4 linked regions of the Homo sapiens genome follow. The protein of the gene in region 1 interacts with the protein of each later gene in a pairwise test. Each region holds a gene or a part of one and is shown in the gene's direction. Other genes may lie near its edges. The genes, in order: ING5, WASF1, TRIML2 and THAP6.

What was found.
Region 2: the proteins of ING5 (region 1) and WASF1 interact in binary tests that used the Homo sapiens proteins (3 or more experiments, as listed by UniProt).
Region 3: the proteins of ING5 (region 1) and TRIML2 interact in binary tests that used the Homo sapiens proteins (3 or more experiments, as listed by UniProt).
Region 4: the proteins of ING5 (region 1) and THAP6 interact in binary tests that used the Homo sapiens proteins (3 or more experiments, as listed by UniProt).

The regions. Positions count from the first base shown.
Region 1 is NC_000002.12:241,712,012-241,719,042, forward strand, and holds part of ING5 (inhibitor of growth protein 5), read left to right. Parts: coding exon 1-60; intron 61-7,031. UniProt on the Homo sapiens protein: Component of the HBO1 complex, which specifically mediates acetylation of histone H3 at 'Lys-14' (H3K14ac) and, to a lower extent, acetylation of histone H4. Component of the MOZ/MORF complex which has a histone H3 acetyltransferase activity.
Region 2 is NC_000006.12:110,106,650-110,113,680, reverse strand, and holds part of WASF1 (actin-binding protein WASF1), read left to right. Parts: intron 1-220; coding exon 221-355; intron 356-4,999; coding exon 5,000-5,153; intron 5,154-6,486; coding exon 6,487-6,604; intron 6,605-7,031.
Region 3 is NC_000004.12:188,099,596-188,106,626, reverse strand, and holds part of TRIML2 (probable E3 ubiquitin-protein ligase TRIML2), read left to right. Parts: intron 1-616; exon of another isoform or gene 617-1,036; 5' UTR 1,037-1,258; coding exon 1,259-1,447; intron 1,448-1,694; coding exon 1,695-1,790; intron 1,791-5,353; exon of another isoform or gene 5,354-5,367; coding exon of another isoform or gene 5,368-5,376; coding exon 5,377-5,571; intron 5,572-7,031.
Region 4 is NC_000004.12:75,524,457-75,530,541, forward strand, and holds the end of THAP6 (THAP domain-containing protein 6), read left to right. Parts: intron 1-2,503; coding exon 2,504-2,758; 3' UTR 2,759-2,973; coding exon of another isoform or gene 2,974-3,003; 3' UTR 3,004-5,570; downstream 5,571-6,085.

The DNA.
Region 1 (7,031 bases):
GGGCCGAGGCAGGAGGACATCAGAGGAAGACACACCAAAGAAAAAGAAGCACAAAGGAGGGTAAGAGGCTTTCCCCTCTTTTTCCCAAAAGAACGAATACCCATAGCCTGTATCCCGGATGTAGGAACACTGATGGAAGCTGACCCGAGTGAAGTGCACCCCGTGTGCCGGGTGGTATTCTGATTCTTACGCTGCGCGCCTGTCGTCAGCCTGTCCTCACCGCAGCCTTTGAGGGGGTGCCGTTGTCAGGGGCATTTTCAGTGTCGCAGGGACCTGCCCAGGCTTTAGGGCTGCTGTGGTGCGGCTGGGCTGCACCTGGAGTCTGACTCCAGTGCCTGTCCTCTTAGCCACAGTGTGTGCTGCCCCACTAGGGACAGGAGGATGGTGAGCAACGTGTTGTTGACAGAGGCCAATGTAGACCACTCTTTAAGTAGCTAGATTTCTGTATATCTGTCAGTTATTTTATGTGTCAACATATAGTGTGCATATATTCATTGTTAATTATGTGGCCACATTTATTAAATAGACATGTCATTTAACTTGAAGTTTTTTGAGATACTTTATTTAAAGCATTCTCCCACTGACACCCTCCCTGCCAAAGGTGTTGTATACCCTCCAAAGAGATCGTAGCATTACCTCAGAGGAGTGACATTTAGACTAAAGAGAAAATGCTGAAATGCCACGAAGCCTCTGTGGAGATGATCTCACAGAGGGAGGGTCAAAGAGTGTAAGTTTTGGGCACGGTAGCTCATGCCTATAATTCCCGCACTTTGGGAGGCCAAGGCGGGAGGATCACTTGAGCCCAGGAATCTGAGACCAGTCTGGGCAACCAAGTGAGTCCCCCATCTCTACAAAAAATAGAAAAAATTAGCTGAGGGTGGTGGTGTGGGCTGTAGTCCCAGCTACTAGGGAAAGCTGAGCTGGGAGGATCATGAGCCACGATCGCACCACTACATTCCAGCCTGGGCCACAGCATGAGACTCTGTCTCAAAAAAAAAAAATAAAGAGAAAAAAAGAGTTCTTCTTGACAAAAAAGGGACAATTTTCTTTTTTTTTTTTTTTGAGATGGGGTTTCGCTCTTGTTGCCCAAGCTGGAGTGCAATGGCGCCATCTCGGCTCACTGCAACCTCTGCCTCCCAGGTTCAAGCGATTCTCCTGCCTCACCCTCCTGGATAGCTGCAACTACAAGTGCGCACCACCATGCCCGGCTAAGTTTTTGTATTTTTAGTAGAGATGGGATTTCACCATGTTAGCCAGGCTGGTCTCGAACTCCTGACCTCAGGTGATCCACCTGCCTCGGCCTCCCAAAGTGCTGGGATTACAGGCATGAGCCATCACACCCGACCCAATTTTCAGTTTTTTTTTTTTTTTTTTTTTGAGATGGAGTCTTGCTCTGTCCCTCAGGCTGGAGTGTGGTGGCGCGATCTCAGCTCACTGCAACCTCTGCCTCCCAGGTTCAAGCAGTTCTCCTGCCTGAGCCTCCCAAGTAGCTGGGACTACAGGTGCATGCCACCACACCCAGCCAATTTTTTTTTATTTTTTGTAGAGATGAGGTTTCACCTTGTTAGTCAGGATAGTCTTGATCTCCTGACCTCGTGATCCACCTGCCTTGGCCTCCCAAAGTGCTGGGATTACAGGCGTGAGCCACTGTGCCCAGCCCCAATTTTCAGTTTTTTAGCTAGTGCTTAGCCTTTTGGCCGGGCGAGGTGGCTCATGCCTGTAATCGCAGCACTTTGGGAGGCCAAGGCAGGTTAATCACCTGAGGTCAGGAGTTCAAGACCAGCCTGACCAATATGGTGAAACCCCGTCTCTACCAAAAATGCAAAATACTTAGCTGAGTAGTTGGCAGCTGCCTGTAATCCCAGCTACTCGGGAGGCTGACGCAGGGAGATTGTTTGAACCCGGGAAGTGGAGGTTGCAGTGAGTCAAGATCACACCACTGCACCCCAGCCTGGGTGACAGAGCAAAACTCCGTCTCAAAAAAAAAAAAAAAATCCCAACATTCTCGTATTGTAAAGTAGTGCACAGATACAGAAAACCGCACAGAACAAACATGGTTTAATTAATTTCCGTAAAGTGAAGATCTTTGTAAGTAGCACCTAGTCAGTGATTAACTGCTGCTGGAAGGCCTTCCATATGCCCTGTTAAAATCATAAACTCCTCCTGCCCCCAAATAAACATGATCCAGATTTCTATAGTGTTTATTTCCTTGTTTCTTTAATAGTTTTATAGTGCATTCCTAGACACTATACATTATAGTTTAGTCCTGTTGTTTTTCTAACCTTTTAAATTAACTTTATTAAGGAATAATTTACATACAATAAAATGTTATTCTAAGTGTACAGTTTGATGTTGCATTCAGTTCCTTTAAAGTTATGGAAGTATTCAGGCTTTCTATTTCTTCTCGAGTCAGTTTTGGAAAAAATCTGTGTCTTTCAAGAAATTTGTTTCATGTAAGTTGTCAGATTTTTTTGACATCAGGTTGTTAATAATTTTGCATTATTATGGTTCTGATGTGTCTGTTATGATGACCCCTCTTTCAGTCCTGATACTGGTAATTTATGTTTCTCTCATTTTGTCTTGATCCTTTTTTTTTTTTCCCTGAGGGCAGGGTCTAGCTGTGTCACCTAGGCTGGAGTGCAGTGGCATGCACATGGCTCACTGCAGCCTCCACCTCCCTGTCCCCAGGCTCAAGTGATTCTCCCACCTCAGCTCCCGAGTAGCTGGGACCACAGACATGCGCCACTATGCCTGGCTAATTTTTTGTAGAGACAGGGTTTCATCATGTTGCCCAGGCTGGTCTCAAACATCTGGGCTCAAGCAGTCCGCCTGCCTCAACCTCTCCGTGTGTTGAGATTACAGGCGTGAGCCACTGCGTCTGGCCGTCTTGATCTTTTTAGAGAACTAGCTTTTAGTTTCATTATTTTTATTGTTTTCTCTATTTTTTTGTTTGCTATTGCATTTGTTTCTACTCTCTATTTCCTGTTTTCTACTCAGGTTTACTTTGCCTATACTATTCTAGCTTTTTAAGGTGGAAGTAGCTTGCATAATTGATTTTTATATCTTCCTTGTTCTAATTATTATCTTTGTTGCACTCCACAAATTTTGATATATTATGATTTTGATATAATTTTGATATTGTTTTAAATTTTTATTTCGTTTACCTATTTAAAATATTTTAGAATGTTTTTCTTGTTTTTTGAGATGAGGTCTCACTCTGTCACCCAGGCTGGAGTGTAGTGGCATGATCCTGGCTCACTGCAGCCTCCACCTCCTGGGCTCAAGAGATCCTCCCACTTCGGCCTCCCAAGTAGCTGGGACCACAAGTGCATGCCACCATGCCTGGCTAATTTTTTATATTTTTGGTAGAGATGGAGTTTCACCATGTTGCCCAGGGTGGTCTTAAACTCCTGAGCTCAAGTGATCCACCCACGTTGGCCTCCCAAAGTGCTGGAATAGAATTTTTTTTTTTTTTTTTTTTTTTTTGGTGAGACGGAGCCTCACTCTGTTGCCCAGGCTTGAGTGCAGTGGTGTGATCTTGGCTCACTGCAACCTCCACCTCCCAGGTTCAAGCAATTCTCTTGCCTCAGCCTCCTGGGTAGCTGGGATTACAGGCACGTATCACCATGCCTGGCTAATTTTTTTTTGTATTTTTAGTAGAGACAGGGTTTCACCATGTTGGCCAGGCTGGTCTTGAACTCCTGACCTCAGGTGATCTGCCTGCCTTGGCCTCCCAACATACTGGGATTACAGGCGTGAGCCACCGCACCTGACCTAGAATTTTTTTTTTCATGCTACTTCTTTGCCCTATAACTTATGTAGAAGTATGTGTCTCAATTTCCAAATAATTTGGGATTTTTCAGATACCTTTCTAATTTTAATTTTTTAGTTGACTTCTGTTGTGGTCAAAGAACATTACATAATTGAAATCCTTTGAAAGCCAGCTAATTTTTGTATTTTTAACAGAGACAGGATTTCACCATGCTGGGCAGGCTGGTCTCGAACTCCTGACCTCAAATGATCTGCCCACCTTGGCCTCCCCTCCCTGTAAAGTGCTGGGATTACAGGCATGAGCCACCGCACCCGGCCTTCATTGCAATATTTGGTCTGTTCATATTTAACATAATTAATGATATGGTGGGATTTAGGTTCACCATCTTGCTATTAGTTTTCTGTTTGTTCCTTCTGCTCCTTTGCTGTCTTCTTTTGGACTAATCAGGTATTTTTTAGTATTCCGTTTTTTTCCCCACTCTTGTCTTATTAGCCATGCTTTTTTTTTTTTTTTTTTTTTTGAGACGGAGTCTTGCACTGTTGCCCAGGCTGGAGTACAATTTGCAATGGCATGATCTTGGCTCACTACAACCTCTGCTTCCCAGGTTCAAGCGATTCTCATGCCTCAGCCTCCGCAGTAGCTGGGATTATAGGTGTGCGCCACCACACCCGGCTAATGTTTTTGTATTTTTAGTAGAGACAGGTTTTCACCATTTTGGCCAGGCTGGTCTCGAACCCCTGACCCCAAGTGATCCACCCACCTCGGCCTCCCAAAGTGCTAGGATTACAGGCGTGAGCCACTGCCCCGGCCCCTGTATTTTAAGGATTGTTCTAGTGTGTGCACTCAGTTTCCTTAAGTTATCACAGTGAGCTTCAGATATTACACTATTTGATGTTTAACGTGTGGCTCCACACAAGTGTTCTTCCATTTCCTGCCTTTGTGCTGTTGTCCTTCACTTTGCCTGTGATCTGAGCTTCCCAGCACGTTATTACCTTAGATGCAAACCACTGATGACGTGAAACACGCCTTAAAATATATGTGGAATGTAAAGATGTTGAACTCACAGAAGTAGAGAGTAGAATGGTGGTCAGGCGCTGGGGTGGTCAGGGGAGACGTTGGATACAGAATTTCATTTAGATAGGAGGAATAAGTTCAAAAGATCCGTTTTACAACATGGTGACTACAGTTAATAACAATATAGTCTCAAAAAAATGTGTAGATTTTAAGTGTTCTCACCACAAAAGTCACCCCATATATAGTTACCTCATATAGTTGCCATTTCTGGTAACCTTCATTTTTTTTTTTTTTTGAGACAGAGTCTTGCTCTGTGTCCCAGGCTGGAGTGCAGTGGTGCGATCTCAGCTCACGGCAACCTCTGCCTCCCAGGTTCAAGTGATTCTTGTGCCTCAGCCTCCTGAGTAGCTGAGATTACACCCACCTACTCACCTGGTTAATTTTTGTATTTTTAGTAGAGATGGGGTTTTGCCATGTTGGCCAGGCTGGTCTCGAACTCCTGGCCTCCAGTGACCCTCTCGCCTCAGCCTCCCAAAGTGGCAGGATGACAGGCATGAGCCACCGCGCCTGGCCCAACTATTATTTCTTAATATTTATTTTCTTTCTTTAAAAATTTTTTTTCCATACATATTCTGCTTACGTATATTTCTTTATGTGGATGCAAATTTCTGTCTTGTCATTTCTCCTCTACTGAAGAACTTTAACATTTTTTGCAGTACATGTATGCTGATGGTGATGAATTCTCTGTTTTTGTTTCTCTGAAAATGCTTTTATTTCACTGCGTATAGAATTTTAGGTTGACCTTTTTTCTTTTATCGCTAAAGATGTTCTCTCATTTTCTTCTGTCTTTCATTGATTCTGATGATAAATTACTGATAATAATTATTTTTGGTGGTTTCTTTTTTTTTTTTTGCTTTTAAGATTTCTCATTGTCACTGGCTCTTAACAGTTTGGTTATGATGTGTATTGGTGTGATTTTTTTGTGTATATTTTGCGTGGAACTTGTTGAGCATCTTTGAACTGTTGGTTTATACTTTGCATCGAATTTGGAAAATTTTCAGACAGTTCTTCCAGTATTTTTGTGCTCTCCTTTCTCCTCTTCCTGCTGTCCAGCTCCCTGTGCGTTCCTTAGCTTAGATTTTCTCACAGCTCACCGAGGCTCTGCTTACTTTCTGCAAGCTTTTTTCTTTCTGTACTTCAGTTTGATTTGTTTCTATTACTTTATTTATTTATGAGACAGGTTCAGGCTCTGTGGCCCAGGCTGGAGTGCGGTGGCGCAATCTCCGCTCACCGCAGCCTCTGCCTCCCGGGTTCAAGCCATTCTCCCGCCTCAGCCTTCCAAGTAGCTGGGATTACAGGTGAGCGTCACCACACCCGGCTAAGTTTTGTATTTTTAGTAGAGTCGGGGTTTCAGCCTGTTGGCCAGGCTGGTTTCAAACTCCTGGCCTCAAGTGATCCGCCCAGCTCAGCCTCTCACCTTCCCTTTCCTTCTTTCTTTCCTTCCTTCCTTTCTTCTTTCCTCCCTTCCTCCCTCCCTCCCTCACTTCCTTCCTCCTTCCCTCCCTCCCTCCCTTCCTCCCTCCCTCCCTTCCTTCCTTCCTTCCTTCTTTTCTCTTTCTGTCTTTTTTTTTTTTTTTTTGAGACGGTCTTGCTTGGTCACCCAGGCTGGAGTGCACTGGTACAATCTTGGCTCACTGCAAGCTCCGCCTCCCAAGTTCAAGCGATTCTCTGCCTCAGCCTCCCAAGTAGCTGGAATTACAGGCACGTGCCACCATGACTGGCTAATTTTGTATTTTTAGTATAGACAGGGTTTCACCGTGTTATGCAGGCTGGTCTCGAACTCCTGGCCTCAGGTGGATCTGCCTGTTTTTGGCCTCCCGATGTGCTGGGATTACAGGCGTGAGCTGCTGTGCCCGGCCCTAAGTTAGTTTTAATCTCCTTTAATACATTTTTCATTTAAGAGATTGTAGGGCTGGGTGCTTTGGCTCATGCCTGTAATCTCAGCACTTTGGAAGGCTGAGGTGGGAGGGTCACTTGAGTAGCCGGGATCACAGGCATGTGCCACCATTCCTTGGTAACCAGCTTTTAAAAAAACATAATCAGTCCTATTTCCCTGCTGAGGGTACATGTCTCATGATTTATTAGCTGTCTGACTTTAGATATAAAGGAAGCGTGGAGAGGGAAATTTCTGTTCTCCCCAGGAGGTGTTCGTTCTGTTTTAGTCCAGGCCAATAGGGCTGGGGGC
Region 2 (7,031 bases), on another chromosome or scaffold:
GACTATTACAGTTAAACGATTTTGTTCAAGGGTCAACTGTAATTCCAAATAAATTCCAAATTCAACAGGTCACCAGTTGTAATATTACATTGTTCATTATTTATCTCTGATCACAAAGTATCTGAGGGCAAATATCATGCTAGATTTCTACTGCTTGCAAAGATAAAAACTCAGTGCTCTGGATGTTAAATTTTATGATATATGTGTCATTTTTGCTTAGGTAAATATGCTGAAGATATATTTGGAGAATTATTCAATGAAGCACATAGTTTTTCCTTCAGAGTCAACTCATTGCAAGAACGTGTGGACCGTTTATCTGTTAGTGTTACACAGCTTGATCCAAAGGAAGAAGAATGTAAGCTTATTAATATTGTATTTTCTTCTACGTATATATTTTAAGTTAGATGAGATGAATGATATACTTAACAGTATTAATCATGAATTTATTACAGATCATACCCATGTCCTTTGGTGTACATATTGTAATAAATCAGTGAATTATCTAAAAATGCCATCAGTATGATTCTCCGGGCTTTTCTTTTCTACTCTGTTTTAAATCTCTTCTTTTTGTACACTAAACAGCTCCTAATTTTTTTGCATAAAGAAGTCATTTTAACCAGACATTTTCCTCCATTCTCTTCATTATCTTTCTCTTTTCATTTCTCCCTTATAATTTATTTGTATACTTTTGTCTTAGAAATAAAAATTATTAGAAAATTACCTGAAATCTTTAGGTTTGATTCTACAAGAATGTAACTGGTTTTTTTTTTGTTTTTTTTTTTTTTTGAGACAGACACTCTGTCACTAGGCTGGAGTGCAGTGGCGCAATCTCGGCTCACTGCAACCTCCACCTCCCAGGTTCAAGCAATTCTCCTGCCTCAGCCTCCTGAGTAGCTGGGATTACAGGTGTCTGCCACCACGCCTGGCTAATTTTTTTATTTTTAGTAGAGATGGGGTTTCACCATGTTGGTCCGGCTGGTCTCGAACTCCTGACCTTGTGATCTGCCCACCTCGGCCTCCCAAAGTGTTGGGATTATAGGCATGAGCCACTACACCTGGCTATGTAACTGCTTTTAATATGCTTTTGTATGTGCATATTGCTAAAGTCTTATTAGTTATTTAACTGAATGCAACTTCCTACTTTAAATGAACATTTCAAAAACAAATTGCCAGTATGTAGGGTGTAAACATTCTATACCAAGATATTAAATCAGGAATAATCAGATAGGCTAAAATAATTGTAGAAACTTCGGTGGTAAAATCATGTTTTATGCCTTGATAGAATACATTGAATGCCGACGTTTCCCAAATGCATCTTTTTGTTTGTTTCACAAAAAGAAATGCAATACTAAGAACATAATTTGCACTTACCTACCACAGAGAATTGTTTAATGGAATTTCTTACACTCTCTTCAAAATATTTTTGTTGCATTAAATAGTATAAACACAAATTATATGATAGATCTAATTTTTAGTATAAATGCAAATTATATAATAGATCTAAACTTTAACAATAAAAATACTAAAGGATGTCAGTGGAAAGAACAAAAATATAATGTAATGATAGATGTCTTAGTGATGGAACCAGCTACTTTTGAAATAATCCAATGTGTAAATAAGGAGAGGCAAATACTTGGCATACTAGATTTGTACCACTTGTAAAATGTAAACTCAGAGCTCTGGATACAAGAAGAAAAGGAAATAATACTTAAAAAATAGCTTTATTAAGATATATTTCACAACCTACGTATACCTTGCAGTTCACCCATTTAAAGTTGAAGTGTACAATTCAGTGTTTTTTAGTATATTCAAGTTATGCAACCGTCACCACAATCAATTTTAGAGTATTTGTATCACTCCAGAAAGAAGCCCTGTACTCATTAGCAGTCACTCTGTTTCCCCTTCAGCTCAACCCCTAGCAATCACTGATCTTTCTGTCTGTATGGATTTGCCTCTATGGATTTGTCTGTATGGATCTGTCTGTATGGATATTTCATATGAATGAATAGTACAGTATGTGGTCTTTTGTGACTGGCTTCTTTTAGCATAATGTTTTCAAGGTTCATTCATATAGCATGTATTTATATCTCCCTGATGGCTAATGATGTTGAGTATGTTTTCATGTGCTTACAGGCCATTTGAATATCTCCTTTGGAGAAATGTCTATTTAATTCCTTAGCCCATTTATAATTTGTATTATTCGTGTTTTTATTTTTGACTTGTTGGAATTCTGTGTATATTCTGGATCTAAATCCTTTATCAAATATATGATTTGCAAATATTTTCTCCCCTTCTTTAGGTTGTCTTTCTTGGTGGTATCCTTTGAAACATGTGCATGTATCAATACATTAATTACACCTCATGGAATTCTTGAAATAAAATCATTGTTAGTGGTGAAAAATATTTTATGGTCATGCTTTCAAATACATAATTTATAGCCAAAATTTGTTTTTCAGATAACTCAACTGCTTATCACTTAAATATAAATTTATGCCATCAAATAATAGAGAAATACACAGGCAGTTCTCATATGTAACAGAAATAAAAATCAACATTTAGTTTCAAAATATTGTTACATTTTAACAAATGTCTTAGAGCCACCATTAAACTTGAAAGTGAAAATACAGATAACAGTAAATAAATTAAGATGTTTGTGTTAAAAAACAAATTTTAATATGTCAACAGCTATACTGTCAGAATTATACCTAGTTTCCTTTAAAATTTTGTGGAGCAGTGGGGGAAGAATTCAGAATCTAAAAGCTGAACTACTTAATTTGAAATTGTTTTGGAGAGGTTGTATTGAAGGAGTTTTCAGTTATTTAACCTAGGTTTTTTAATTCAGTGGGAATTAAAAAAAAAACATCATGTGTACAGTACTAAATAGCACAGTGTGGTATCAGTTTTTTTAACCGTTTTGTAGTAACTAAAAACTATCAATTTTGAAAATATTTTTTAAATGAATTTTAAACAAAGACTTGTACAATTATATTTAAGTCAATTATGTTTATAAGCATTATGCTAATTTATTGCTTTATAATTCTATTTTATTAATATCAGATGTTATTGTTGGCAAGTGGAAGGAGCTTCACCACAATAGTCTGTTAATAATAAGACAAACGATAAATGAGAGGAGTTGAAGATAGAAAAGTACATCATGCTTATTAGTTTACATGTTTCTTACATCCTTTACCAAGGAAGTTTGGCGAGATTAAACACTAGGTTTCATCTTAATTACATACTTATTGATTAATAAGTGGGGCAGGAGAGTGGCAAGAATTGATCCACTTTGACTGCAGAAAACACAACCCACTTCTGGCAGGAGCCTGAGAACAGCGTGTGGTATTGTGGCAAAAAGATTAGCCTCAAAGGTAGACAGATCTGACTTTTCTGTTCTGGCTCTGCTGTTTATTAACTGTTTAACCTCAGGTCAGTTATATACTATTTCCTAGCCTTAGCTTTCTTATATTTCACAATGGAGTAATAATTCCTGTCTTACTGAATTGTAAAGATTAAATGAAATGAAATTTAGTGAAACCATCTAGCACATATAGTATGTACTCATTAAATACTGTATCTCCAGTGCCACTTTTTAGTGATAGTGGGGAAAAACTTTTTGCTTCTCTGAATTTTATTTTAGTATTTATAAGTGTGTTACAGGTCATGCAGCAGTGGAATTGCTAGAAATGGAATTATGGTGCCACCATTGCAGAGCCAGCCTATTGTACCTTCTGTGCCATTGGTCCCATGTTCATGTTGAGTGAATTTACTTGAGGGGATGACAGGAATATTATTTTAAGGAGAAGGATAACTTAAGAATTGTTGGCTGGATGTGGTGGCTCACACCTGTAATCCCATCACTTTGGGAGGCTGAGGCGGGCAGATCATGAGGTCAGGAGTTCAAGACCAGCCTGGCCAACATAGTGAACCCTCATCTCTACTAAAAATTTAAAAAAAAAAAAAAATTAGTCGGCCATGGTGGCAGGTGCCTGTAGTCCCAGCTACTTGGGAAGCTGAGGCAGGAGAATTGCTTGAACCCGGGAGGAAGAGGTTGCAGTGAGCCGAGATCGTGCCACTGCACTCCAGCCTGGGTGACACAGCGAGACTCTGTCTCAAAAAAAAAAAAAAAAAGAATTGTTAGGATTGTTATACTGACCTTGCTATGTTATAGGGCATTTGTCTGTATACTTAAGGCCATATTAAATATCAAGAAATTACCTTATTTTTTAATATCGGGATATCAGTGTAAGAATTAAGAATGCAGCATTTTTGTATGTTTTTTATTTTAACATGCTGCACAGTTCAAAATAAATGAAGTTGTTTTTAAATCATGTATGTGATGGGGCTGTGCTAGTGACTGGGAATACTAATGTACAAGATAGTCTGAGTCTTCAAGAGCTTATAGTTAGGTAGAAATCCTTATAGTACAGATAAAAGATAAGTGAAAAAGAGAATAATATAGATCACCTAATACTTAAAAGTATTTCCTTTACAGTAAAGTTTGTTTTAACTTGAGAGTACACATACAATATTTATAGTATATGTAGCATAGAGGTTAACAGCGTGTTTAGCCCACAGTGCCACTAATAAGTAATTCCTTTCAGAGTTACTGGTGTAAGCTAAAAAAAGGAATAAAGGGAGATGGAAAAGAAGATTATAGGAGAAGAGAACCTAAGTTGGTGGGGGCCCATGATGGCAGGTAGAAGAAAGAAAAAGGTATATTTGGTTGAAATGTAGATATGTTTCAGGTGTCATTAGGGCCCTCTGAGCCTTCAAAATCAAAGGTTAATTAAAACCTATCTGATTGGGAAAATTAGGCGCAGAATGATATGGGTAAATATAATGATAGAACATTTAAAATATGGTTTCTGATTCATAAGCCACTAAGGTCACAACCTCTTGAGCCATGCTGACTTTTAGACAAATAAAGTATGTGAATTTGCCCTTATGTTAAATCATCTTAGTAAAATAAAATAAAATGAATTCTTGATTTTTGTTTTAGTGTCTTTGCAAGATATAACAATGAGGAAAGCTTTCCGAAGTTCTACAATTCAAGACCAGCAGCTTTTCGATCGCAAGACTTTGCCTATTCCATTACAGGAGACGTACGATGTTTGTGAACAGCCTCCACCTCTCAATATACTCACTCCTTATAGGTAGGTAGGTTAATAAATAGTAGCCCTATTATTTATCTCAGACTTCAGATTGAAATGCTAAATCCCCAAACATTCTTTATTTCATTGGGGTTCTAGCCAACACAGAGAGCCCTCTCTGTCCACCACCTTTGGAAAACCTTTGCTTTTATTCATTGGATGAATTCTTAAGATTGTGGCATACAAAAGACAAGACCTATTTAAAAGAGTTGTTTTTACAAGTTTAGAAAAGCCACTGGTAAACTTATTAATGTAAAGAGATAAGGAGTTATTATTGTCCTTTTAATTTAATTTTTAATCAAATGGAAAAAGCTCAAAATTCTGTCCTACTAACAAAATAAACATAATTTTTGCTTGTTTTGTCTACTCTTTTTTTTTTTTTTTTTTTTTTTTGAGGCGGAGTCTCACTTTGTCACCTAGGCTTACTGCAAGCTCTGCCTCCCAGGTTCATGTCATTTTCCTGCCTCAGCCTACCGAGTAGCTGGGACTACAGGCGCCTGCCACCAAGCCCGGCTAAATTTTTATATTTTTAGTAGAGATGGGGTTTCACTGTATTAGCCAGGATGGTCTCGATCTGACCTCGTGATCCACCCGCCTTGGCCTCTCAAAGTGCTGGGATTACAGGCGTGAGCCACTGCGCCCGGCCTGTTTCGTCTACTCTTGATTTGATTTGTATACATTAACTTCTTACATAATGAATAGGTAGTACCTTTATAAAATGCTTTTTACCACTTAGAATAAAATCTGGAATTATTTAGCCTTTCTTTGAAGTTCTTTCACATGGTTTGTTAAATGGGTAATGTACAACACAACCTGAATAAAATAGTATTCAGAGAGTTATTTGAAATTGTAAGTCAGTGTGCAGATAATTAGATATAAATGTGACTGTTAGAATGACTATTACATGATATCTTTTGGATTTAGTAAGATAATAAATAAATCATAGTATTGGCAGAAACTGCAAAATTTCTGTCTTCTAGATGATGTTACTGTCTTTTCAGGCTTTTATCTTTGGCAGAGCTATTTGTAATTATTGGAATTGCCCAAAGGACTTTTTAGAAAATTTGGGATTCAGCAGAAATTAGGGATGAAAATTGCCCAGCTATACTTTAAATTGTTAGTACTAACTTGGAAAAGCATCTGCTTTACCACTTTTCTTTGTTTCCTCATATTTGTGAGAAATTTTCTATTGGTGCAATATTCAGTTTTATTTTGGCACTATTTTAACATGCTGTATTTTATTAATGTAAGAGGATAAACATTTTAGTGAAATTATTTCTATTCTGATTGCCTAAGTCTTACTAATGTGTGTTTTAATTGATATTTTATATTTCAGAGATGATGGTAAAGAAGGTCTGAAGTTTTATACCAATCCTTCGTATTTCTTTGATCTATGGAAAGAAAAAATGTTGCAAGATACAGAGGATAAGAGGAAGGAAAAGAGGAAGCAGAAGGTATTACAAGAGATTAAAAAATTGAGGTTAATTTTTGTATATTTGTGTTTTGTTGCATATATTGAACTTCATTAATCTTGTATTTTGACAGTTTTATTTTATTGGGTCCATATAGTTAAATACTGAAGTCTTTATAACTCCACAGAAAGAACACAGTCTGATGGGGAGCAGATGAGCAATTAGATTATTAGAGTAGGGCATAATAAGTGCCATAGCAGAGGTATGCATAAAGGGTTTAGATAACACAAAATAGCATCTGCTTTAGCTAGCAGGCAGGGTAAACCCTTCCCACAAAGCTTATAATGAATCTTGAAGAACAGATAGGAGTTAGGTGTACCAAGGAAGAGAGGAACATTTTGGTAAGGAGCAATGGAATCTTGTACAGATATTGGTAACGTAGATTAAGCTAGTATTTTGTTGCTACAGA
Region 3 (7,031 bases), on another chromosome or scaffold:
CTGGGAGACCGTCTCCTGGCCGGTCACCTGGAGGGCGTGTAGCTCCGGGGCGCGGACCAAGAACTGCATGTTGGTGACTGAACCGCGGTTCCGGCTGCCGCCCCCGCGAAGATGGAGTCAAAGAGGAAGGAGCGAGGGCGCTCACGGCCAGACCGCGGGCAGCGCGTCACGTCACTCCTGAAATTTTATTTCGGAAACAATTATTGAGAAGAGTGGCTTTGGCTTCACTGTTTTGCAAATCTCTTTAATTGATGGCTTCTTAGAAGAGCCGTTTTCGGCCGGGCGCGGTGGCTCACGCCTGGAATCCCAGCACTTTGGGAGGCCGAGGCGGGTGGATCACGAGGTCAGGAGATCGAGACCATCCTGGCTAACACGGTGAAACCCCGTCTCTACTACAAAAATACAAAAAATTAGCCGGGCGAGGTGGCGGGCGCCTGAAGTCCCAGCTACTCGGGAGGCTGAGGCAGGAGAATGGCGGGAACCCGGGAGGCGGAGCTTGCAGGGAGCCGAGATCGCGCCACCGCACTCCAGCCTGGGTGACAGAGCGAGACTCCGTCTCAAAAAAAAAAAAAGAGGAGCTGTTTTCCCTTATTTGCTTCCCCATTCCTTCTGTTGCATGTGTTTTGTCCCAGCTGTAGTCCCAGCTACTCCGGAAGCTGAGGTGGGAGGATCGCTGGAGCCTGGGAGTTCCAGAGGCTGCAGTGAGCCGTGGTCACGCCACTGTACTCTAGACTGGGCAACAGAGCAAGACCCTGTCTCTCAAAGGGAAAGTATTTTAATAACTTTTTCAGATACTTGTGGTTTTTTTCTGTAATTCTATCAACGAACCTCTTTCGCACTCTGTTACCTCACTCTAGTCCTGAAGTTCCTTCAGTAATTAGCGCGATGCCTTTAGAGCACTGTTTTCCCCTGAATGACTCGTAAGTGAGTGCTGTTCCTTGTAATTAATTTTCAGCCTATTGCTCAAGATTGTCAGAAGACCTGAGGGAAACCCGCTGGTCTTAGAACACTGGCCTAACTCTGTCTTTTCCCCAAGCAGGCAGCTGCCAGAAATTTGTTGGATTTGAGGAGTCCAGAGCGCCGACCCGCTCTGTCTGCGTGGACTTATTTCCTTGGATCTTCGTGGACTCTGAAGTTGCCAAGTGTGTGTGCCTGCTCCAGAAAACAAAGGAAGCCACCATTTTTTCTCATTCACAGTGCAGGGAGATACCTCAGTAGAAGCATACAGTCCAGTCTTCAACTAGGGACCCCTACCAGGATGTCCAAAAGGCTCAGCCCTCAGTTACAGCACAACATCACAGAAGATGCCTATTGTGAAACACACCTGGAACCAACACGGCTGTTCTGTGATGTTGACCAAATCACACTCTGCAGCAAATGCTTCCAGTCCCAGGAGCACAAACATCACATGGTGTGTGGGATACAAGAGGCTGCTGAGAATTACAGGGTAAGAGTCACTCACGCAAATCCCAAAACACTCTGGCCAACTCCTATATGGATGAAATGGACAGACATTCTGGTCCTCCAAAACCATTACCTTAGTTGATGTTTATTACAGAATATTAGATAAGTTCGTTGAACCTTCAACCTAAAGGCTAAGAAAATATATACTCAGAGTTGTTGGCTGTTTAAGGTCAGGAATCCAACTGTTCTAAATCAATGATCTCACCTGGAATTCTGTGCTTTCTCTATAGAAGTTATTCCAGGAAATATTGAACACATCGAGGGAGAAACTTGAAGCAGCTAAAAGCATATTGACTGATGAGCAAGAAAGAATGGCGATGATTCAGGTCAGTGAGTGCTTATCTTGATTCTTGGGGGGAAATTACCAGTAATGTTGTTAGAAAATAGTGTATCATAAACAAAGTCAAAAGACAAATCACAAAGCAGGAAAAATGTGAAATCTATAGGAAGGAAAAGTGCTAATATCTTAATGTATAAAAAGCTCTTTAAAGTCAGTAAGAAGCTGGGTGTGGTGGCTCACGCCTGTAATCCCAGCACTTTGGGAAGCTGAGGAGGGCGGATCACTTGAGGTCAGGAGTTTGAGACCAGCCTGGCCAACATGGTGAAACCCCATCTCTACTAAAAATACAAAAATTAGCTGGGTGTGGTTGCACGAGCCTGTAATCCCAGCTACTCGGGAGGCTGAGGCAGGAGAATCGCTTGAACTGGGAGGCAGAGGTTGCAGTGAGCCGAGATCACACTACTGGACTCCAGCCTAGGCCACAGAGCAAGACTCCATCTCAAAAAAAATAAAAATAAAAAAAGTCAGTAAGGAAAAGACTAGAAATTTAATTTTAAAAAACGATCAAATAAGAGTTTGCAGAAAAGAAAGTAAATATATTTTAAATACATTGAAAGAATTTGAACTTTGTTCGTGGTAAGAGAAATACAAATTATATGGTGAGTAAAATGGCATTTGCAATGCTATTTGCAATGATCAAAAAGATTAACGACACCGTTTATAACAATGACATAGGAGAATGAGCATCTCTTGTACTTCTGGTTGCCACATAAATTCTAAAACCCTTTAAAGAGCAATTTGAGAATAGCTATTCAGATTTGAGGGTTCACCACCTGTTAGGCATATTTCACTTCTAATTTCAGCCTGTATCTTCATACTTAATCCTATTCTGTGCAAGGTATCCCCGATTCTGGGTCTTTTCTCTCCCTCAATTTTTAAAGGAAATAAATGCCTACTTAGGGAAGATAGTGGAGGAGAATTGCCTGGCTAGGTAAGGATTTTTCAACCGATCCCCCTTCTTTTTCAGTTCCAAGTACCATGTGTTCAGCAAATACTGAGATCCCACTGTTTGCCAGGGACTATGCAAGGTGCTAGGGGCTCACCAATGGAAAACAAAAAAAACCAGCTCTGCTTTCGTGGAACTTGCATTCTAGTGGATATAAACAAAATAAGTTTAATATATAGTATGTTACCTGGGAAGTGTTTAAAAAAATTTTTTTTAAGTGAGAAAGGAAGCAATGGAGTGAGCTTGTAAATAAAGTGATCAGAACCTTGTTATTCAGAAGGTGGCACTGAAGGAGGTGGGGGATTGGGCCATGCAGTTTTCTTGGGGAGGAATATTCTAGGCAGAGGAAAGGCCTGGAGGCTGCCGTGTATGTGGCTGGAGCTGTGTAAGGAAACGGGGGCTGTAGGTGATGAGATCAGAAGAAGGCGGTCAGTCATTTAGGGTGGCAGCCTTCAATGAAATACAAGCTTCAAAACCACTGGAAGGTTTCGAACAGAAGGCTGACATGATTTAACTTCCATTTTCATAGAAACACGCTAGCTGCCAAATGAAAATAGACATTAAGATAGTAAAAGCAGGCTGGTCGTGGTGGCTCATGCCTGTAATCCCAGCACTTTGGGAGGCCGAGGCGGGCGGATCACGAGGTCAGGAGATCGAGACCATCCTGGCTAACACGGTGAAACCCCGTCTCTACTAAAAAATCGGGTGTGGTGGCAGGTGCCTGTAGTCCCAGCTACTCAGGTGACTGAGGCAGGAGAATGGCATGAACTTTGGAGGCGGAGCTTGCAGTGAGCCGAGATGGCGCCACTGCACTCCAGCCTGGGCGACAGAGCGAGACTCCGTCTCAAAAAAAAAAAAAAAAAAAAAAAAACCAAGAGAGTAAAAGCAGAGGTGGAGAGACGTGCAAAGGGACTTGCAATAATTAGGGAGAGATGATGGTGAGCTGGGGGACAGGTAGAGCAGTGGTGAGAAGTAGTCAGGTTCTTGATAAATCTTGATTTCATTGAATCTTTTTTTTTTTTTTTTTGAGATGAAGTTTCGTTCTTGTTACCCAGGCTAGAGTTCAGTGACGCGATCTCGGCTCACTGCAACCTCCGCCTCCCGGGTTCAAGCAATTCTCCTGCCTTAGTCTCCCAGGTAGCTGACATTACAGGGGCCCGTCATCATGCCTGGCTAATTTTTTTATTTTTAGTAGAGACGGGGTTTCACCATGTTGGTCAGGCTGGTCTCGAACTGCTGACCCCATGATCCACCTGCCTTGGCCTCCCAAAGTGCTGGGATTACAGACGTGAGCCCGGACAATTTCACTGAATCTTAAATAGCTTAATAGAGATGCTATTTAAGCATCTCTAAGATGACTACTTTCAAATATATATCCCTAGCTCAGATTTCCAAATGGTAGTAGGCTTCATGTCCAATTTCCTACTTACTATCTTTACTTGGATGTCTAATTGACTAATCAAATTCATCACATCCCGAGCTAACGCACACTCCTCACTTCTGGAATCCAGCCTTTCCATAGATTCTCTCTATATATTTTGGTAATTCCATTCTTCCAGTTGCTTAGTCTAAAATTTTTGGTGTCTTTCGTCCATGACTCCTTTTTTCCCCACAACTCTTACCCAAGCATCAGCAAATCCCATTGGCCCTTTTCCAATGTCCTGGTCTCCTCCTCTGTTTGACAGAGGCTATAGCTTCCTTAGTTTTTCCTTATTGATGAACATTTCTTTTTTTTTTTTTTTTTTTTAAGATGGAGTCTCCCTCTGTCGCCCAGGCTGGAGTGCGGTGGCGCCATCTCGGCTCACTGCAAGCTCCACCTCCCGGGTTCACGCCATTCTCCTGCCTCAGCCTCCCGAGTAGCTGGGACTACAGGCGCCCGCCACCAAGCCCGGCTAATTTTTTGTATTTTTAGTAGAGACGGGGTTTCACCGTGTTAGCCAGGATGGTCTCGATCTCCTGACCTCGTGATCCGCCTGCCTCGGCCTCCCAAAGTGCTGGGATTACAGGCGTGAACCACCGCGCCCAGCCAATTCATTGATGAACATTTCTTCGTCTGCATTTTATGTTCTAAAATTGTGTTGATGTCTTGGCTGATGTTGACTCAAATTCTATTTCTCCTTTGGGTTTATTCCTTTTCTTCTGTACTTTACATTTCCTCGTCTTTTTTTGTTTGTTTGTTTTTTTGAGACAGAGTCTAGCTCTGTTGCCAGGCTGGAGTGCAGTGGCGTAATCTCTGCTCACTGCAACCTCCACCTCCCAGGTTCAAGCGATTCTCCTGCCTTAGCCTTCCGAGTAGCTGGGATTATGGGTGCTCCCCACCACGCCCAGCTAATTTTTGTATTTTTAGTAGAGATGGGGTTTCACCATGCTGGCCAGTATGGTCTCGATCTCCTGACCTCGTGATCCACCCACTTTGGCCTCCCAAAGTGCTGGGATTGCAGGCGTGAGCCACTGCGCCCAGCCTTCCTTGTCTTTATATTGGGGTTAGAGATGGAAAGAATACATTGTGGTCAGTGTAAGATATATATATCTATATATAGATATAGATATCTATCTATTATGACGTGTGTGTGTGTTGTTAATCTATCATGTTTAACCTGAAGTCTATCATGTCTATATGAGGAAGGAAGAGGAACAAAATTTTAAAAAGATGATTGAGTCTGAGTATAGTATGAGACTCCGGTTGTTGAATGAAGAGTGTGAGCAGAATCTCCAGAGACAGCAGGAATGCATATCTGACTTGAACCTGAGAGAAACCCTTCTGAATCAAGCGATCAAGCTTGCCACCGAGCTAGAGGAGATGTTCCAGGAAATGCTACAGGTGAGATATTGAAAACAACATCCTCATATTTGAGAAATGAGAAAAAGAAGAGCTAAACATTATGTCAATTCCAAAATAACATAGCCAGTGACAACCACACATGTATTAAATGAATTATATACCTACCTGGCAACTCCATTTCTATGAATTTATCTTGACATGCATATAAAAAGACATAAATAAAGCACAATATACCTATAAATATATTTGTACACATATTACTGTATTATGCTTCAAACATACTTACACACATAGAAAAAGACACCTGGGTAAGGCAACACTGAAACTGAGTTTCAGTTTAGAGCCATGGTTTAGAATTCACCTTTCTTTTTTTTGAGACAGAGTCTGGCTCTGTCTCCAGGCTGGAGTGCAGTGGCGCAATCTCAGCTCACTGCAAGCTTCGCCTCCCGGGTTCACGCCATTCTCCTGCCTCAGCCTCCCAAGTAGCTGGGATTACAGGTGCCCGCCACTACGCCCGGCTAATTTTTTGTATATTTAGTAGAGACGGGGTTTCACCGTGTTAGCCAGGATGGTCTCGATCTCCTGACCTCATGATCCACCCGCCTCAGCCTCCCAAAGTGCTGGGATTACAGGCGTGAGCCACCGCGCCCGGCCTAGAATTCACCTTTGAAGCCGGATGAATGGAGTTCCTATCTGAGCCAGCTGTTTACTGGCTCCTGGGTGGCCTACGACCTGCTGCTTAACCTTTGACTTGGTTCCTTTAGCTGTAAACTGGATATAACAGTGACCCCTAATTTATAAAATTATTGTGAGATTTGAGTGAGATAATCTGCTAAAGCTTATTAAATCGTGTCTTGTTCATGTTAAGCAGTTGATGAGTAGCAGATGTTACAATTATAACATTCATAGCAAGAGGTTAGAAACACCCTGTATTTGTCAATAGAAGACTCACAAAATGTGCTCCATACATACATGGAAGAATACTCTTCAGCATGTTAAGATGATGTCATGGCTCTGTGTATATGAATAAGGAATGTTCTCCAAGAATAAAGTAAGTTGTCAGATTAGTAATCAAATATAATAAACTATCACTTATGTTTATGTTTTTTCCCCCTAAATAACATACTCAAGTTGCGTATGTGACTACGCAGTATATGTAAAGTATACTTGGAAGGATAAAAAGAAAATTGATATCAGTAACGTAATTATTTATTTCTTATTAGTTAATCTATATACCTTAATTTTAATTGATTTCAAGTTAATGAAAAAATAGGGAACCTTCTGAACAAACAGCCACAGAAAAAACATGAAATGTTTTAGGTGCATATTAATGTGAGTAAGGGCTGCGTGCACACACATCTGTATTGGCTTAAACATACATAACAGGGGGCAAAGAATCAACTGTCTCTTGAGAGGAATCCTGCTTCAGCAGAAGAATATCATGGCCTTGCCTAATTATGTCTGTTCCTGGGGTAGCAGGCAGAAAAGCAGGGTTTTTT
Region 4 (6,085 bases), on another chromosome or scaffold:
TTACTTTAACATTTCCTATAGTGCAACTATGCTGGTGATGAATTCTTTCAGTATTTCTGTTGCTTAAAAAGTTTAATCTTCACTTTTGAAAGATATTTTCACTAGGTAATCAAATTCTAGGTTAACAGTTTTGGGGGCGGGGGCAGTTGTTTTTGGTACTTTTTAAGACGTTGCCCTGCTGTATTCTTACATGCACCATTTCTAATGAAAAATTTAATTAATGTCATACTCACCTTTATTCTCTGTACCTAATACTTCTTTTTTTCTTTGCTTTTAAGAATTTTTCTTTTTTTAAATTTTTTATTTATTTATTTTTGGAGACAGGGTTTCCCTCTGTCACCCATGCTAGAGTGCAGTGGCACACTCACAACTCACTGCAGCGTCAACCTCCCAGGCTCAAGCAATCCCTCCACCTCAGCCTCCTGAGTAGCTGGGACTTACAGACATGTGCCACCATGCCAAGCTAATTTTTGTTTGTTTTTGTAGAGACCAGATTTCTCCATGTTGCCCAGGCTGGTCTCAAACTCCTAAGCTCAGGCGATCCCCCTGCCTCGGCCTCCCTAAGTGCTGGGCCAGGCGTGAGCCACCGTGCTGGACAATAATTTTTGTTTTTTTCTACTGCTTTTGCCTAATCTGATGATGATATGCCTTGGTTTCATTTTCTTCATATTTCTTGTAATTAAGATTTGTTGAGCTTTTTTATTTAGCAGTTTATACTTTTTATCAAACTTGGAAAAATTTTGGCCATGATTTCTTCAAATATTTCTTTCTATCCCAATTTTTCCCCTCCTTCAGGAATTCTAATTATGTGTATATTAGGCTGTCTGAAATTGTGCAACATGTTACTGATGCTTTATTTTTTTTCTATCTCCTTTTCTCTCTGTAGTCCATACTGGATAGTTCCTGTTGCTGTAACTTTACATTCACGAAATCTTTTCTTCTTCAAAAAATACACTGCCATTCTCTCCAGTGTATTTTTTTACCTCACACATCAGTTATCTGTAGATATTCTATTAGAGTCTTTTTTATATATTTTATGTACTTAACTTTTTGAATATATAGAATACAATTTTAATAACTTTCTTAATTGTCTGCTAATTCTAACATTTGTGTCAGTTCCGGCTTGGTTTCCATTGATTGATTTATCTCTTATTATGACTAATGTTTTCCTGCTTATTTGCATGCCTGGTAAATTTTGCATGCCATGAATTTTGGGTTTTAATTTGCCAGATGCTAGATATTTTTGTATCATGTTTTCTTGAGCATTGTTCTGGAGTACAGTTAGTTAGAAACTGTTCGACCCTTTCAGATTTTACTTTGTTTGACAAGACTGTTTTGCATACTTAGTGTCCATGAATCTTGACATTTTCAAGTCTGGCTAGTGGGAATAGTGGCTATACCCTGTGAGCACAGGGCACTCCTAATCTCTGGTTGTTCTTTCCTCAGCCTTGAGTAGTTTCCTCATGTGCATGTGCTGATCTTACTCCATGGAATACTCAAAGGGGAGCCTCTGAAGATCTTGAGTTTTTTCTGTGCAGCTCTCACCTGTCTAGTACTTTGTCCTGTGAACTGTAGCTACTTTGGTCTCCCTGGATGTTTTGCACTACCTCCTCAGCTCAGTCTGCTAAGCTCTGCCTGGGTTTCCCTTCCTTGCCCTGAGGCCGAGAAACTCTCAGGCAGTTAGCTGGAGCAGTCTTAGGTCTCACCTCTTTGCTTCCCATCTGTCCACAATAGCTGCTGTCCTTGCCAAATATCCATTATCTTAAGAGCTATTTTTTTCTGTCTTTTAGCCTTGTGTTGGTTCTTGGAGGTAGGGGTCAATCCAGTCTCTGTTACTTCATCTTGGCTGGAAATAAAAGTCTTCTTTACTAATTTTAATATTAAATAATAGCTTTTCAAAATTATTTTATAGTACCTTTATAAGCTATGTCAGTGTTATTTTCCCTATTCTCAAATGAAAAAGGAATAAAAGCATACCCAGCAAATTTAAGCATAACCATAATAAACACCAAGAGGAGTTGTCTCTTGAAAATTCCAAGACCAGAGTCCTCTCTAAATCCCCAACACCGAGCCTGAGAACCTGCTGCAGTACTCTTTTCCTGTCACACCTTATCAAATGCAATAGCCATCCAATAAAGTAACCCAGTTAAAAACTTAATTTAAATTTGTTTGATAGGTAAAAATTAAACTTAGCAGCACCACATTGAATGAACAAAAGCTGTAGAGTCATTGCAAGTGTCATGCTATTCATAGAGATAAGTGCTTCCCATCCATAATATTCTGCAGTCTTTGTGTATGCCTGGCCTTAGTAAAAGGAGGGATGCCCTTAGCACCCTAAATATTGCTTCTACCCCCATCTTCTTCCTGTGTTCCTTAAACCTCTATCACCAACTTAAAAATGTTCTCCAGGCATTGTAAATGAAGAAACAGCTTAGACCTAGTTATAAGCTTTTATCCAACTACATATCTGTCTGATTTAATAACTTGGTGTTTATGTTTTTAGGAACATAGCTACAGTGTAATGGACAGTCCAAAGAAACTTAAGCATAAATTAGATCATGTGATCGGCGAGCTAGAGGATACAAAGGAAAGTCTACGGAATGTTTTAGACCGAGAAAAACGTTTTCAGAAATCATTGAGGAAGACAATCAGGGAATTAAAGGATGAATGTCTGATCAGCCAAGAAACAGCAAATAGACTGGACACTTTCTGTTGGGACTGTTGTCAGGAGAGCATAGAACAGGACTATATTTCATGAAATAATTTCATGTTACGTTCCACCTAAAATTGTCATTGGTACAAATTTTTATAAAATCTCATTTACCATCACTAAATAATATCCATCATTTAAAGTGCTGCTTTGGATTCTCTGGAGCATTATGCATTATAGTTGTTATCCAAAGACTTTTTTGAAAATATGCAGAAATTTGTGGTAATTATGTATTTGTGTCTTGTGACAATTATGTTTTATAGACCTACACTAGTGCCAGGTCACTATTGTAAGATGTTAAAATCTCAAGAAAATTTCACAGAGCTAAAGAAATGATGTCAAATTAGTCACATTAAGCTATAGTAGAAGGAATTGGACACTTCTCCAGATATTTGGCTTCAAAGGAGTACCTTTACTTACATGTGCTTTATGGTAAGTACATTGAATTTTACTTTAAATGCATTTTACTACAAAGCACAATTCATTTGTAATGCATATCCATCTTGGATTCAATCCAAGGTGCTTTAGCTATCAGTAGTACCAAAGGATCTTTTTACAAGGCTTCCTGTGGTATTGACTCTGAGAATAACACATAGTGAAGATCTGTGGGCTTTTAAAATTGTTCACAGCCAATTTAAGAAGACCCCTCATGAAGTCTCAGTTTTCAGTACAGTACATCATTCCTCCTCACTAGGAGCACTTTGATGTAAACCAGAATAGCTTTAAAAAGACAAAAAGGATCGTAGATCTGATTTTTAAATGGTTGGTTGCTCTGACAGATCTGAACACTTTGCTTCATGACTATTTCGTCATAAAGGTATATGTTTAAAATCTGAATGGCAGTACTAGCTCTATACTTTTAATACTGCTTTGTATTTTATATGTAAAGTAGTATTGCTGACATTTTAAAAAAATACAAAATACAAAAGAAACCATTAGAAATTAATAACTGTGGCTCTTCCAGTTGAAATAGGAATTGGAGAGAAAGGATTAGAATATTTTAATTAGGGGAGTAGATTATTGTCCAAAGGCTTTTATTTAGAGAAACGGGTAATTAAAACAGCAGCTTTAGAATAGCTTCTTACTGAATATGCAAAAGAATAATTCCTTGTTATTTCCTAATTGATCCAAGTCTCATAAATTTAGCTTTTGTCATAATTCCTTACCGAAAACAACTGAAATTGAGAGTCATAAATACTGTGGGTTAGAATAAAAACCATTTGCCAAAGCAACACTCTACTTAGAAGCACATGTACATACATGGACCTCATTCAGAAGTCCATGTTGTAGCAGTTAGAATTTGAGTATCAGCCATTTCATTGTAGTAACAAAAATTGAATTGCATTTTGTGCTCAGTTGTTTATTGTAATTTTATTTTTGTTACATTAATATTAGTTAAGATATGGTCACTTGAATTTTTTGTATTTAAGAATTTTCTGTTTTAATGCATGTTATACTTTTATGTAGGATTCCAAACCTTCCCTCTAAATGGGATTTAACCCACATCTGCGAGATCAGCGTTATGCTAAGAGGAAATCACTGAGGCCATATCTTTTTACAATCTGAAAAAAAAGTAGTAAAAAGGTAGTTAAAAAAAAAAAAGGCCGGGTGGTGGCTCATACCTGTAATCCTAGCACTTTGGGAGGCCAAGGCAGGCAGATCACTTGAGGTCAGGGGTTCAAAACCAGCCTGGCCAAGATGGTGAAACCCCATCTCTGCTAAAAATACAAAAAAAAATTAGCCGGGCATGGTGGCACGTGCCTGTAATCCCAGCTACTTGGGAGACTGAGGCAGGAGAATTGCTTGAACCCGGGAGGCGGAGATTGCAGTGAGCCAAGATCACGCCGTTGCACTCCAGCCTGAGCAACAGAGCAAGACTCCATCTCAAAAAAACAAAACTACTTTCATTAATTACCCATTATTTATTTTAGTTACTTAATTTTGAGTTCATAAATGGCCACCCTAATGGAAAGTTTGGGTATGATCTTAGGTTTTATGGAGATGTTTTCAATAGAGATTATTTTTCCCTCACCCTATTTGTGAATATATAAATTAAAGTAAGACAATGGAGTAAGTAAGAGGGTAGATCCAAACACAGTATGTCTAAATTCTAGCACTCTACTGGCTGCTTAGAATACACCAAACCTGGAAGACCTTTCCAAGAGTAAAATCCCAGTCTGCCACTATCAAAATTGCCACAGTCACTTTTACTACTTGTGTTCATAGTAGACTCAGCACTTCTTTTTCACTGGACCTAGTATAACTGAGAAATAAATAACTGTGTGCAAAATATTGGTATCATTAAGGACCCAGAGCTGCCCATTTTCTCTTTGTTCTAATAGGGAAGCAATTACTGATAGAAATGTGAGATTAAAAATAGGGTCCTCCCTGCTGCTCCAAACAAATGCCTAAACACAGTATGTATCTCAGTCCTCTGTTCCCAGAGATTCCACCCTAGCCCAGGAAAGAACTGGCCTGTGTAAAGCAAAACCCAAGTCATCCCCCTCCAGAAATTTCTCTGGCAGCCAAGCCTGACCCTAAGGGTTCCACTTTGCTTTAAAAGCTAGGAGTGGCCTCTAGAGCCAGGAACACATTAATACAACAGTTCAACCTCAGCACCAAGTCAGGTACGAAGCGCTTGATACGTGGAATTTTTCTCTATATCAAGTTTAAATTTCTGGAAATAGACTTTGGTTGCTAATGACAATTACAGTTATACCATAGTCTGTAATTTGAGAAAAGGTGAAATGTATTTAATATATATTTAGTTTTAATAAAAAGATAAAATTATTACAGAAATAATTGAGAGAGAGAAAATCTATTATAATTTATTTGAAAAATAAAACATTTTATCCAGTAATGTGTTATGTGGTTTTATACATTGAGTTATTCAATAAAATGGGCAGAGAAAAATGAAGAGTACGTACGTAGAGGTTTTGCTCTAATTTCTCCTCCACCAATAACTCTAATATGGGGTCTGCAAGGTTAGATGACCCACGTAGCAGGCCAGCTTTCAGCACAATATGGACCTATCATAGAGCCCTTTTCTGCATTGGCCCTCACTCAAAACTGTCAGATATGATGTCACCCAGTATATAAAGGAGAGCAGCATTCCTAGGTGTGAAATATGCTGCCTTTAGAACCCAAAGAGGCCTGTCAGGCATTGTGCTTTCTTCTTCATAGTGGAACATACAGGTTGTAAATAACTTGTCTCTTACTTTAGAGGGGATGTCTTAGCATGCCGCAGATCACTGGATACTTCTCCCCCAAAATTTTACTGATGTTTATAGGCCCCTGAATTTCATAAGTTTTATCTCACCATCTGGAGCACATGTGCTTTATCAAGGCCTCCAATTAACTAGTCCTCCCATTGGA